2 separate regions of the Homo sapiens genome follow, and region 1 is linked to region 2. Evidence: fine-mapped expression QTL. A gene starts in region 2. The other region holds a variant in brackets. All regions are shown on one strand. Distances are from middle to middle.

What was found. PIP is the estimated chance that this variant, and not a neighbour inherited with it, causes the effect.
Region 1: its variant is fine-mapped to the expression of GPSM2 in subcutaneous fat (GTEx, PIP 0.91).

The regions. Positions count from the first base shown.
Region 1 is chr1:108,832,329-108,837,705 of GRCh38, reverse strand. It overlaps AKNAD1 (AKNA domain containing 1), which reads left to right. Exons shown (of 16, transcript NM_152763.5): 7 at 1-156; 8 at 2,650-2,777; 9 at 3,178-3,259. It overlaps LOC105378891 (a long non-coding RNA gene), which reads right to left. Exons shown (of 5, transcript XR_947687.3): 3 at 3,370-3,516; 4 at 1,238-1,457; 5 at 703-745. Among named protein-coding and RNA genes, the nearest start is that of AKNAD1, 22 kb to the left of the region's middle. The variant G/A (reference allele first, on the strand shown) is at 2,892.
Region 2 is chr1:108,874,858-108,880,234 of GRCh38, reverse strand. It overlaps GPSM2 (G protein signaling modulator 2), which reads right to left and starts at 3,250. Exons shown (of 15, transcript NM_013296.5): 1 at 3,007-3,250. RefSeq lists silencers at 2,855-2,924, 3,015-3,414 and an enhancer at 3,495-3,594.

The sequences.
Region 1 (5,377 bases), 43 kb after region 2:
AAAGTGGAAGGTGAAATCTTCAAATTGGAGATGCTGCTTGAAGATGTTAAAGAGAAAATGGATGAAAGCAAATATACTTCAGCTCCTTCCCTTCCTGTGAGTTCTCCAGTTACCCTGGATGACTTGGCCTCCACCTTCTCTTCACTCTCAAATGAGGTAATACAGCAATGTACAGTCTAATTTTGTGCCAGGAAAAATGGTGTTTTTGCATTTATAGACTCCTAATTCATGGATTCACTGAATTCCATTTTTAATATCTCATGAAAATTTAACTTTCCAAAGTCCCATGAATTATATTATTTTAAATGGAACCAGCTTTTAAAGATTAGAAGCTATTTCAAGTGTTAATTTTTGAAACATCTTTATAGTTTAGGATGTAACAATGCTGTTTAAATCCATTAAACCACCGAAGAGCTATTTCTTCCAAATTAATAAGAAAATTTTTGTAGATCATGCCTGGAAGAAATAATTTTTTTTCTTCATAGTTTTGTACTCACCAGGCTGGAGTGTGGTAGCACGATCTCAGCTCACTGCAACCTTTGTCTCCCGGGCTCAAGTGATTCTCCTCCCTCAGCCTCCCAAGCAGCTGAGATTACAGGTGCATGCCACCACTGCCTGGCTAATTTTTTATATTTTTGGTAGAGATGGGGTTTCACCATGTTGGCCAGGCTGGTCTCAAACTCCTGACCTCAAGTGATCCGCCCGCTTGGCCTTCCAAAGTGTTGGGATTACAGGCATGAGCCACCTGAAAATAAAGAATAGCACACTCAGTGAAATAATTATTTCCCATGAATCCACTTCTGCATTTTCCTTCTCTCAAGTTAAATTCTTTTGGATTTCTACTTATGCAAGATTGGGAATTCAAATTAACCACCACTGTCTTTCTATACTTTTTGCCTTTGTAGCCTCAACTATCAGAACATTCAGACTAAAATCAAAATTCTGAGAAACAGAATCATTTAAATAAATACCTTAAATTGACTCTTTAGTTTCATACAGTATTTGAAGACACAGCCTGGGGCTGATATTCAAACTTGAATGAGGATTTTGTCAAAGCGAAGGACAAAGTGACAAAGATTATGTCAAGGTTAGCCCTTCCGAAGAAGTGTTTGCCTCCTCAAAGCACTTACTTGCCTGGCAAAATCTCACTCATTCAAGGCCCAGCTCTAGCGTCAGGTCATTTATGCATCCCTAGTCAGCCACCCTCCTCACCCCCAAGCCCCCCAATCCCCCGCACCTGGAGGAATTCTTGGCCCCGGCCTCTGTGTCCCCGCAGCACTGGGTCTCGTTTGTCTCTGTGACTCTGCACTCATCTTTGAATCCTGAATGTCCAGCTGAAAGCCCAGGAGAGTCGATGCTTCATAGAGGAAGCCCTGAGCCACCGTGGATGTAACAGCCCATCTCAAGGCACCCAAGCAGTTTCCAGGCTCACAGCGGCTGCCCTGCTAGTCTTGGACCTGCAGGAGTCACAAGTCTTTGTGAGGCCACCTCAGGGTTGGCCCTGCCCTCTACCTGGCAGCTCCCTGGGGTCTGGATCTGCTCTTCTTTACTTGGTCCCAAGTTTACAGCTACTGTTGTGAAATGATGAGAACTCTCTAAATAACTTTGTGGTAAGTGGTTCTGGAAAGAGTCTAGTGCTGGCATCCTTCATTCACTCAGCAGTATGTATTGCTATAGGCTAGCACTTTTCTAGGTATTGGGGATAAAACATGAACAACAAACAAATCACCTGCCCTCAAGATGCTTACATTTCTGTAAGAGAGACATATACTTAACAAATTAAGCCAGGTGCGGTGGCTCACGCCTGTAATTCCAGCACTTTGGGAGGCTGAGGCAGGCGGATCACGAGGTCAGGAGTTCGAGACCAGCCTGGCCAACATGGTGAAACCCCGTTTCTACTAAAGATACAAAAAATTAGCCGGGCGTGGTGGCGGGCGCCTGTAATCCCAGCTACTTGGGAGGCTGAGGCAGGAGAATCGCTTGAACCCGGGAGGCAGAGGTTGCAGTGAGCCGAGATTGCGCCATTGCACTCCAGTCTGGGTGACAGGGCAAGACTCCATCTCAAAAAAAAAAAAAAATTAAATTAACATATAATTATGAAATGTTAAAAAGCACAGTGCAGAAAATAATAATACATTCTGCGTGACTCTGAAGCCAGACTACCTGGGTTCACATACTGGCTCTGTCACTTATTAGTTTTGTGATCTTAGGAAAGTTATGCAACCTCTCTGTGCCTCAGTTCTCTCTTCTGTAAAATGCAGATAATAATATTTGCCTCACAGGGCTGTTATGATGTTTAAATGAGTTAATATAAGTAACGTACTGAAAATAGGGCCTGGCTCACAGTGAGTACATTACTCCTGGGTGTTAGCTATCATGACTATTAAGTAATGGGATATGACCAAAAGTAACTAAATGCAGAAGGTTTGAATTACTAAGGGAGAAGGTTTTTCAGAGAAGGTGAGATTTGGACTGAGTCTTGGAGGATGAGAAGACAGCTAGGTAAAGAGCTGGGGGAGACAGGGGTGGGGGGACGCCAGGCAGGATGTTATGGTGCCTTAGGGGTGCTGTAGGGATGCTGAACTGATTTTGAGTCACCTCCAGTGGGACTGTGGCTCTAATTCAAGTCTTTCTGTGTGGCTCCCCCAGATTCCCAAGGAGCACCCCGGCCACCCTTCTGGGCCTCGAGGCTCAGGTGGGAGTGAGGTAACAGGGACACCCCAAGGAGGGCCGCAGGAGGCCCCCAACGAGGAGCTCTGTGAGCTGGCCCCGCAGACGTGAGTCCTAGCCCTGGAGCCCCAGCAGACACAGGACACAGAAAGAGGCCCCTTCCTCATGCAGCCTCCAGGAAGGCCCATGAGGCTCCCACAGGAAAAGCAGTCTTGGACCAC[G/A]AGTTACAAAGCCTGGTAGCCTGGCTCCTCACCTGCCCCACCAGCAGGGCCTGGCCAGCCTCTGCAACCCTCTGGGCAGAGATCTGAGGGACGGGACAGCTGGGGCTGGGGGACGCGGGGAGAGGTGAAGGTCAAGTGGCCGCATGAGGCCCATAGCACTCTCTGCCTTAGGTTGCTCGCTCCCACCATCCCAGGGGTGATGCCAAGTGATTCCAAATAGTGGAGCTCCCAGGTAGCTCAAGAACTGATTCTAACATTCAAACTGCTTTTTTTTTTTTTAAATTAGTTACCTAAACGGTCATTATGGAGATGCAGCTGCCCAGAACAAGCCAGACCAAGTGGCCATGAGGCTGTCTTCTAACTCTGGGGTAATGTCCTGCAGCCGGGGCCTGGCTGGGTTCTTCTCATTGTTGGCTCTTTAACTAAAACCAGTGTTGCTGAATGTGACTGTGAAATTGGCATAATCAAGATCACTTACCTCTTCCTAATGGCATCCTGGGTGTCAGTGCTGGTGATGGCTGGTACTGCTGACGGTTTCCCACTTTCTGCACTCCTGAGAATCTCGGCAGGCGTACCTAGACCGGAGCTTCTCCAACTTCTCCGAGCCTATGAATCACCTGCAGATCTTGTTAAAATGCAGGCTCTGAATCAGTAAGTTTGGGGCGAGCCTGCAATTCTGCATTGCTAACAAGCCCCAGGTGATGCCAAAGCTGCTGGTTCTGGTCTGCGGACCACATTTTAAATTCTGAGGGTCTAGAGATTATTTCATTTCGAATGAATTGGAAATGCTGGGATTACCAACCCCGGGGTCTTAAATGATATTATATTATAATATTATAATAAGCAGTAAACAATGATATAATAATTATGTTGGCTCAGAGCTTTACAGTTTGCAAAGACTTTTTGCAGAGGAAGAGTAGTTTAGAAAGGTGATATTTGTTCAGGGTAAATGATAGGTGATGCCCGGGTCTCCAACTCAGGTGGAGGGGCACCTCCCTGCATTCTGCTAATGTAAATCTGCCTTAAATGTCAGTGGAGGAGTAACCCTGTAAGCTCAGCAATGATAAAATATAAAAATTAAAAAAAAAAAACCATGGGAAAAATGGATGAAAAAACCCTTTTTTTTTAAATTATAAAACTGATACATGCTTATTACAAGAGAAATGAGAAAATAAAGAAAAGTATAAAGAAGAAACTTCCACTGAGAGGAAAATCAATCTAATTTTTTTTTTTTGAGACAGTCTCGCTTTGTTGTCCAGGCTGGAGTGCAATGGTGCGATCCCAGCTCACTGCAACCTCTGCCTCCTGGGTTCAAGTGATTCTCCTGCCTCAGCCTCCTGAGTAGCTGGGATTACAGGCATGTGCCACCACGTGCAGCTAATTTTTGTATTTTTAGTAGAGAGGAGGTTTCACCACGTTGCCCACACTGGTCTAGAACTCCCGACCTCAGGTGATCCACCCACCTCAGCCTCCCAAAGTGCTGGGATTACAGGCATGAGCCACTGCGCCTGGCCCATTGCTAATATTTTAGTGTATATCCTTCCAGTCTTTTTTTCTCCTATATATACATTTTGGCCAAAATAGGATTTTACTATATATATTGTTTTATGCTTTTCATTTAATGTTATATTTTGAGCAGCTCTCCACATCACTTAGAATAAACTATCGCTTCATTTTTGATGACTGTACTATATTTCATTATACTAATGTACTCTGACACATTTAGACAATCTCTTATTGATGGAGATTTAGTTTTTTCCAGTTCTTTGATATCATAAACACTGCTTCAGGTAACATCATTTGACATGCAAACATTTGTAGTTGATCATTTCCTTAGAATAAAACCCTAGGATTGCAGTTAATGGTTCAAATGGTACATGCTGAAAATTCTGATAATCTGGCCTTTAGGAAGTCCATGGGGGTTTATAGGCTGAGGGCAGTGCGTGGGAATGTTGGTGTCCCCAGTTTGAGCCTACCCCAGACATTTTTTTCTTTTTCCAACTTTTGCCAAATGCATAAGTGAAAACTGATATCTCATTATTTTAATCTTGCTATTTTTGAAACTCAATCTATTTTCATATGTTTCTTGGCCACTCGCACCTCCTCCTTGACAATATTGATATTTTAAGTTGTTTACAAAACTGAAACCACCATCAATTAAAAAAAATGTAGATAGACAACTGAGAAAATATTAAGGGCAAATAATGTTCATTGTTGAGAACTTCATTATATCAAATGCTGTGACAAATTCCCCAAGGAGCAGAACTGTGGTTAAGAACACAAGCATACTGGCCGGGTGCAGTGGCTCGCGCCTGTAATCCCAGCACTTTGGTAGGCCAAGGCGGGTGGATCACTTGAGGTCAGGAGTTCGAGACCAGCCTGACCAACATGGTGAAACTCTGTTTCTACTAAGACATACCAAAATTAGCTGGGTGGGGTGGTGTGTTCCTGTAGTCCCAGCTACTTGGAAGGGAGGCTGAGGTGGG
Region 2 (5,377 bases):
AGTTTAGAATTCTCCATAGGAAAATATATTAAACATGATTTTGTCTTCTCTTCCCAAAAGTTATCACCATTCTGTGGGAAAATAAATGTTTCTATTCAATAATGTTTTGTGATAATATGGGAATAATAATTCTAACTGAAAAGGACCAGGGAAAACTTTTTGGAAGCAAGGAATTTTGTACAGCACCTTGAAGGATGGGTAGATCTTATTAGCCAAATGAAGGAAAGGCATTCCAGTCAAGGGAAAAGAATGGCTCAAGAAAAAGGGAGGGTAGAAATGCACAGAATGTGTTCCAGGATAAGCACACAGTATTCAGAGTAGTGAAAGAGAAGGCTGAGAAGGTAGAACAGTAACAAACTGTGAGGGACTCTGAACATGTGGCAGAAGCATATATTCATATTCAGCCCCCCCTTTTTTTTTGAGATGGAGTCTTGATCTGTCACCCGGGCTGGAGTGCAGTGGCGCGATCTCGGCTCACTGCAACCTCCGCCTCCCTGCCTCAGCCTCCTGAGTAGCTTGGATTACAGGCGTGTGCCACCACACTGGGCTAACTATTGTATTTTTAGTACAGACGGGGTTTCACCACGTTGGTCAGGCTGGTGTTGAACTCCTGACCTCGTGATCCGCCCACCTCGGCCTCCCAAAGTGCTGGGATTACAGGCGTGAGCCACCGTACCCGGCCTCAGCCTTTTATTTACACAATGGGGAACCTTGCTGGTATTTTTTCCCCACAAAGGAATAGCCAAGTTGGATCTCTGCTAGGAAGATAAACCAGCAGCAACATATAAGGCAGGAATGGGGAGAAAAGAAAAATACTACAAAAACTCCAGAAACAACTACTGAATAGGAAGCATTTTCTTGTCATCTCACAACACCAACGACATTGCTTTGCACATAAGAGAGGCCCAACAAACTTTAATTTCTTCCCTGGGAAGAAGACAGGAATTATGACGAGGCCAAAGAATCCTACAATAGTGAGAAAACCGGACTGTAATACATTTCTTCTCCACAGTAAAGATTCTATTCATATTTATGTAAGAAACTCAGAAAAGTCTTACTCTTCACTTATGTTTTGTATAAAGATGATTAAGAAGATATTGAAAATATAATGTGATTTATAAGATGATTTATAAAATAATGAAGCAAGATAGTTCCAACAGAAAGATTGAAATATTTCTGCGAAGCTACAACAAAACACAGCACCTAAAGGCATCTTTAAAGTAGAACTTGTCCCTACAAATGGAATCCAGAGACACAGCAGAGATTTAAACAGACACACAGAAGCAATACAGCATGTGCTTTGGGATCAGGCCATGATTTGAATCTCGGCACAGTGACTTATTAGTTATATGATCTTACGCTAAACTCTCAGTTGGTGTGGGCATAATGACACTTACCTAAAATGTGCTGTGATAATTACAGACATGATTTATAAAGCACCTGACCCAGCACCTGGCTCTGATACATAACAAAAGTACTCAACATAGTGCTGTAGTAATAACAGTAACTGTTATTATAAAATAGACATATTTAATATATATTCAAATAAATTTAGAATAACCTAAATCTATGTCAGATTTTCCATTTTAAAATTCCAGAGAACTAATTACAAATTTCTAAAGATAGATCTTAGAAATATTTTATGTTTATGAAAAGGTCATTTTTAAAACTACTATATCTTATCACTGTTTTAATTAGTCTAGTAAGCAAGTCTCAGATCTATATTAAAATATGTTTGTAACACCGAATATCTGATTTAAGAATGTAAGAAAATACAATTAAACTGCTTATCTGGCCAGAGAGGATTTTGGAGACATGCCTCTACAACAACATCACACAACTTTTTACTTTGAAACCGCTCCAATACTTAAATTATAAGTAATAGCCTGGGAAATAGCTTGCGAAAACGACTCCGTGGTAGTTGTAAAGAGAAGTAGGTGTGAGACCACCCCTAATCCCTGAGGCCCCCCTCTCCTTACACACACCATGTCAACCAACAGTGATCTACCCTTTTTAATGTTGTTTATTCACTTCTAAACAATCAACTAAAGCTGCTCCTGAATAGTGAGAACCCAATCAAAAGTGGTATTTATCAGAAGCAATCACACCGGCTATTATCAGGCCAGAAATCTTCGGTACACCCTTCTAAAGTGGCAGCTTGAAAACTCAGCTCTGTTGGTCCTGCTGACTTCCAACACACCCCACGAACGCTCCAATGCAAACCCGATAGAAAGGAAAGCCAAGAACCTACTTCGTTTAATTCTACGGTGTGGTTAAATTATGCATTAAGGCCAATAAAATTTCCATCCTTACTCGTTTTCTTTAACAGAGTTCAAATGCTACTAGTTCAAATGCTCTAACTGGTTACTATTAAAACAAGGAAATTACAGATTTTTTTTTATTCGAAGGTATTCTATAGATTTCAGGAAAGAGTTTTCTTAACGTTTTATGTTTACTTACTCTTTTTGCAGCAACTACCAATTTCTATGGTAAATCGACCAGTTGGTGCCCAAAAGTTCACTAATTTAAGCACGGTCAAGGCAGGTATTTGCCATAAACTGCCTGGTTTAGGTAGGACGCGCCCGACTCCAAGTGATTGCAATCAGCCTCGGAATGAATTCCACGGGGATTCGGGCTTTGATTCACAATTTGTTACTCACATTCAGAGTGGTAAGAAGTCGCTGGACTCTAGTATAGTTTTTATCTTAAAAAAAAAAAAAGACTCAGGAGTGAGGCTCTTAACGCTTTACTCTCATTTGAAGACCTTCCGACAAAAAAGCAGCAACTCCTCAAGCCGAGTTTCTGGTTTCTTGAGCATCGACGCCGCGTCCCCGCAGCGCCCACAGGTCCCGCAAGCCCCCAGCCCGCCTCCTGCCCAAAACAAAGGACGTCACCCCCAGACCTCTGGACACAGAAGCCCCACACGCACGCACACGCACCCCTCCCTGTCACCTCCCTCCGAGAGCCCCTCAAACGCCTCAGAACCCGCGTCGCGGAAGCGCTCACCTCCCGCGGGCGGGCGGGTCCCGGGTACGCGGTGAAGGTGCAGCGGCGGCCGCCTCGGGCGACAGACGGGTGGTCACGGCCCCTCCCCAAGGCAGGGGCACCGCAGGAGGCCGGCGCGCCCCCTGCTCCCGCCCCCGGCAGGTCACGTGGGCCAGAGCTCGTAGCGCCCCTCGCTTTCCCGGAGCGTCCCTCCGCCACCTAGGGGTCCCGCCGCTCCGCCGGTCTCAACACCGCCCTCCTCTGCGCCTGCGCCCCGGCTCCAGGCGCTCTCATTCAAACCGACAACGCCCCGCGTCTTTCGGACCGGCCAATGGCGGGCGGCGCAGCGGGGCGGGGCGGGGCGCTGGTTGCCCCCCTCTTCGCAGTCCTGGGGAACCGTCTGCGTGTCAAGGTGACAGGGGGCTTGGGAGCTTGGTCCTCCTCTGCTCCGGGACGTGTCCTCAACCCTCAGACTGAAGTTTCTTTCCTGTCCTCTTCTTTCTTCTTCAGACACTAAAAAGTAGAGCAATAAATATTGTCTAGAGTTGGCCGGGCGCTGTGACGGACGGCTATAATCCCAGCACTTTGGGAGGCCGAGGCGGGCGGATCACCTGAGGTCGGGAGTTCGAGACCAGCCTGACCAACATGGAGAAACCCCGTCTCTACTAAAAATACAAAATTAGCTGGGAGTGGTGGCGCATGCCTTTAATCCCAGCTACTCAGGAGGCTGAGGCAGGAGAATCGCTTGAATCCGGGAGGCGGAGGTTGCCGTGAGTGGAGATCGCACCATTGCACTCCAGCCTGGGCAACAAGAGCGAAATTCCATCTCAAAAACAAAACAAAACAAACAAACAAAAAACATCGTACAGAGTTCAGATAGAGGCTGGCCTAGATCCCTTTAAAAAAGGAGCGCAAAACCAGCGCCGCCTTTTTGGAAGACTTGGTGCTGCGCTACAGAATGAGTGTCCCAAGCGGCAGATGCGGGATATAGAAGAAAAAGAGGCCTCTGTGGAAGGAACAGAGGGACCGTGTGAAAGTCTGAACAAGGCAGCCTCAGTTCTTGAGGCTGTGCCCAACCCTGGCGTTTCCAGCTGTTGGAAAAGCAAACTTCTGTTGACTACAGAATCGCTGGTTCCCAGGAAAATTGGGTGGCAGTTTTACTCAGTTTCACTCAGTTTCAGCGCCTACATTCTAAAGACACTGGGAAGAATAAGTTTTATTTCCATTCACCTCTCCTCCATGTCAAGGTGACCCCAAAATAGTAGTCACCTTATAGTTTGTTCTTCACAAAATACCGGCCGGGCGCGGTGGTTCACATCTGTAATACCAGCAACTTTGGGAGGCCGAGGCGGGGGGATCACCTGAGTTGGAGACCAGCCTGGTCAAAATGGTGAAACCCCGTCTCTACTAAAAATACAAAAATTAGCCGTGCCTGGTGGTGGGCGCCTGCAATCCCAGCTATTCGGGAGGCTGAGGCAGGAGAATTGCTTGAACCCAGGAGGCGGAGGTTGCAGTGAGCCGAGATCGCGCCACTGCACTCCAGCCTCGGCGACAGAGCGAGACTCCGTCTCAAACAACAACAAAAACCAAAATACCAAGACCAGAGTCTCTCTGGGGTAAAGCATCTGATGAATTTACTTAGATTATTTTTCAAATAGATATTTCTCTTCTGAAATGAAGTTTAAATGTTTCTACAGGGTAAAGGCTATGTTAAAGAAAACTCCGGGTTCAGTATCTCCGTGAATGATGGCCATAACCAGTGATCCAAGCAACATTTCCCATTAGGTGCATGTTATGGCAAATTGCTTAAAGGAACAGCTTTATCATCAAACTAGACCTGGGTTTGAGTTCCAATTCTGCTACTTACTTGCTGATTGACCTTGAATGAGTTATCTTCTTTAGTCTTAGTTTCCCCACCTGTAAAACATAATAAAGCCTCTTCTAATAAGGGTTGCTATGATGCTTCTGTGAGGTAAGGTTGTTAAGTGGTTGACATAGGGCCTGACACATAGAAACTGCTCCATACTTGATACCTATTATCGTTACAACCATCTTTAATATCAGGTTCTTGTAAATAACAATGGAATTGGTTGGCTGTACTGTTTCAGAGGTAGGTATTAATTCCTTCTTAATTATAAATTCTTTTAAAGTATGGATACTGTGAAAGCCACAAAGGAAATTTTATATATATAGAGAGAGAGACAGGACCTCCCTCTGTCACCCAGGCTGGAGATCACTGCACAGCAGCCTCAACCTCCCAGGGCCAAGTGATCCTCCGATCTCACCCCTCCCCTACACCCCAGTAGCTGGGACCACAGGAGCTTGACACTATGTCTGGCTATTTTTATTTTTTCAGTAGAGAAAAGGTCTCACTATGTTGCCCAGGCTGGTC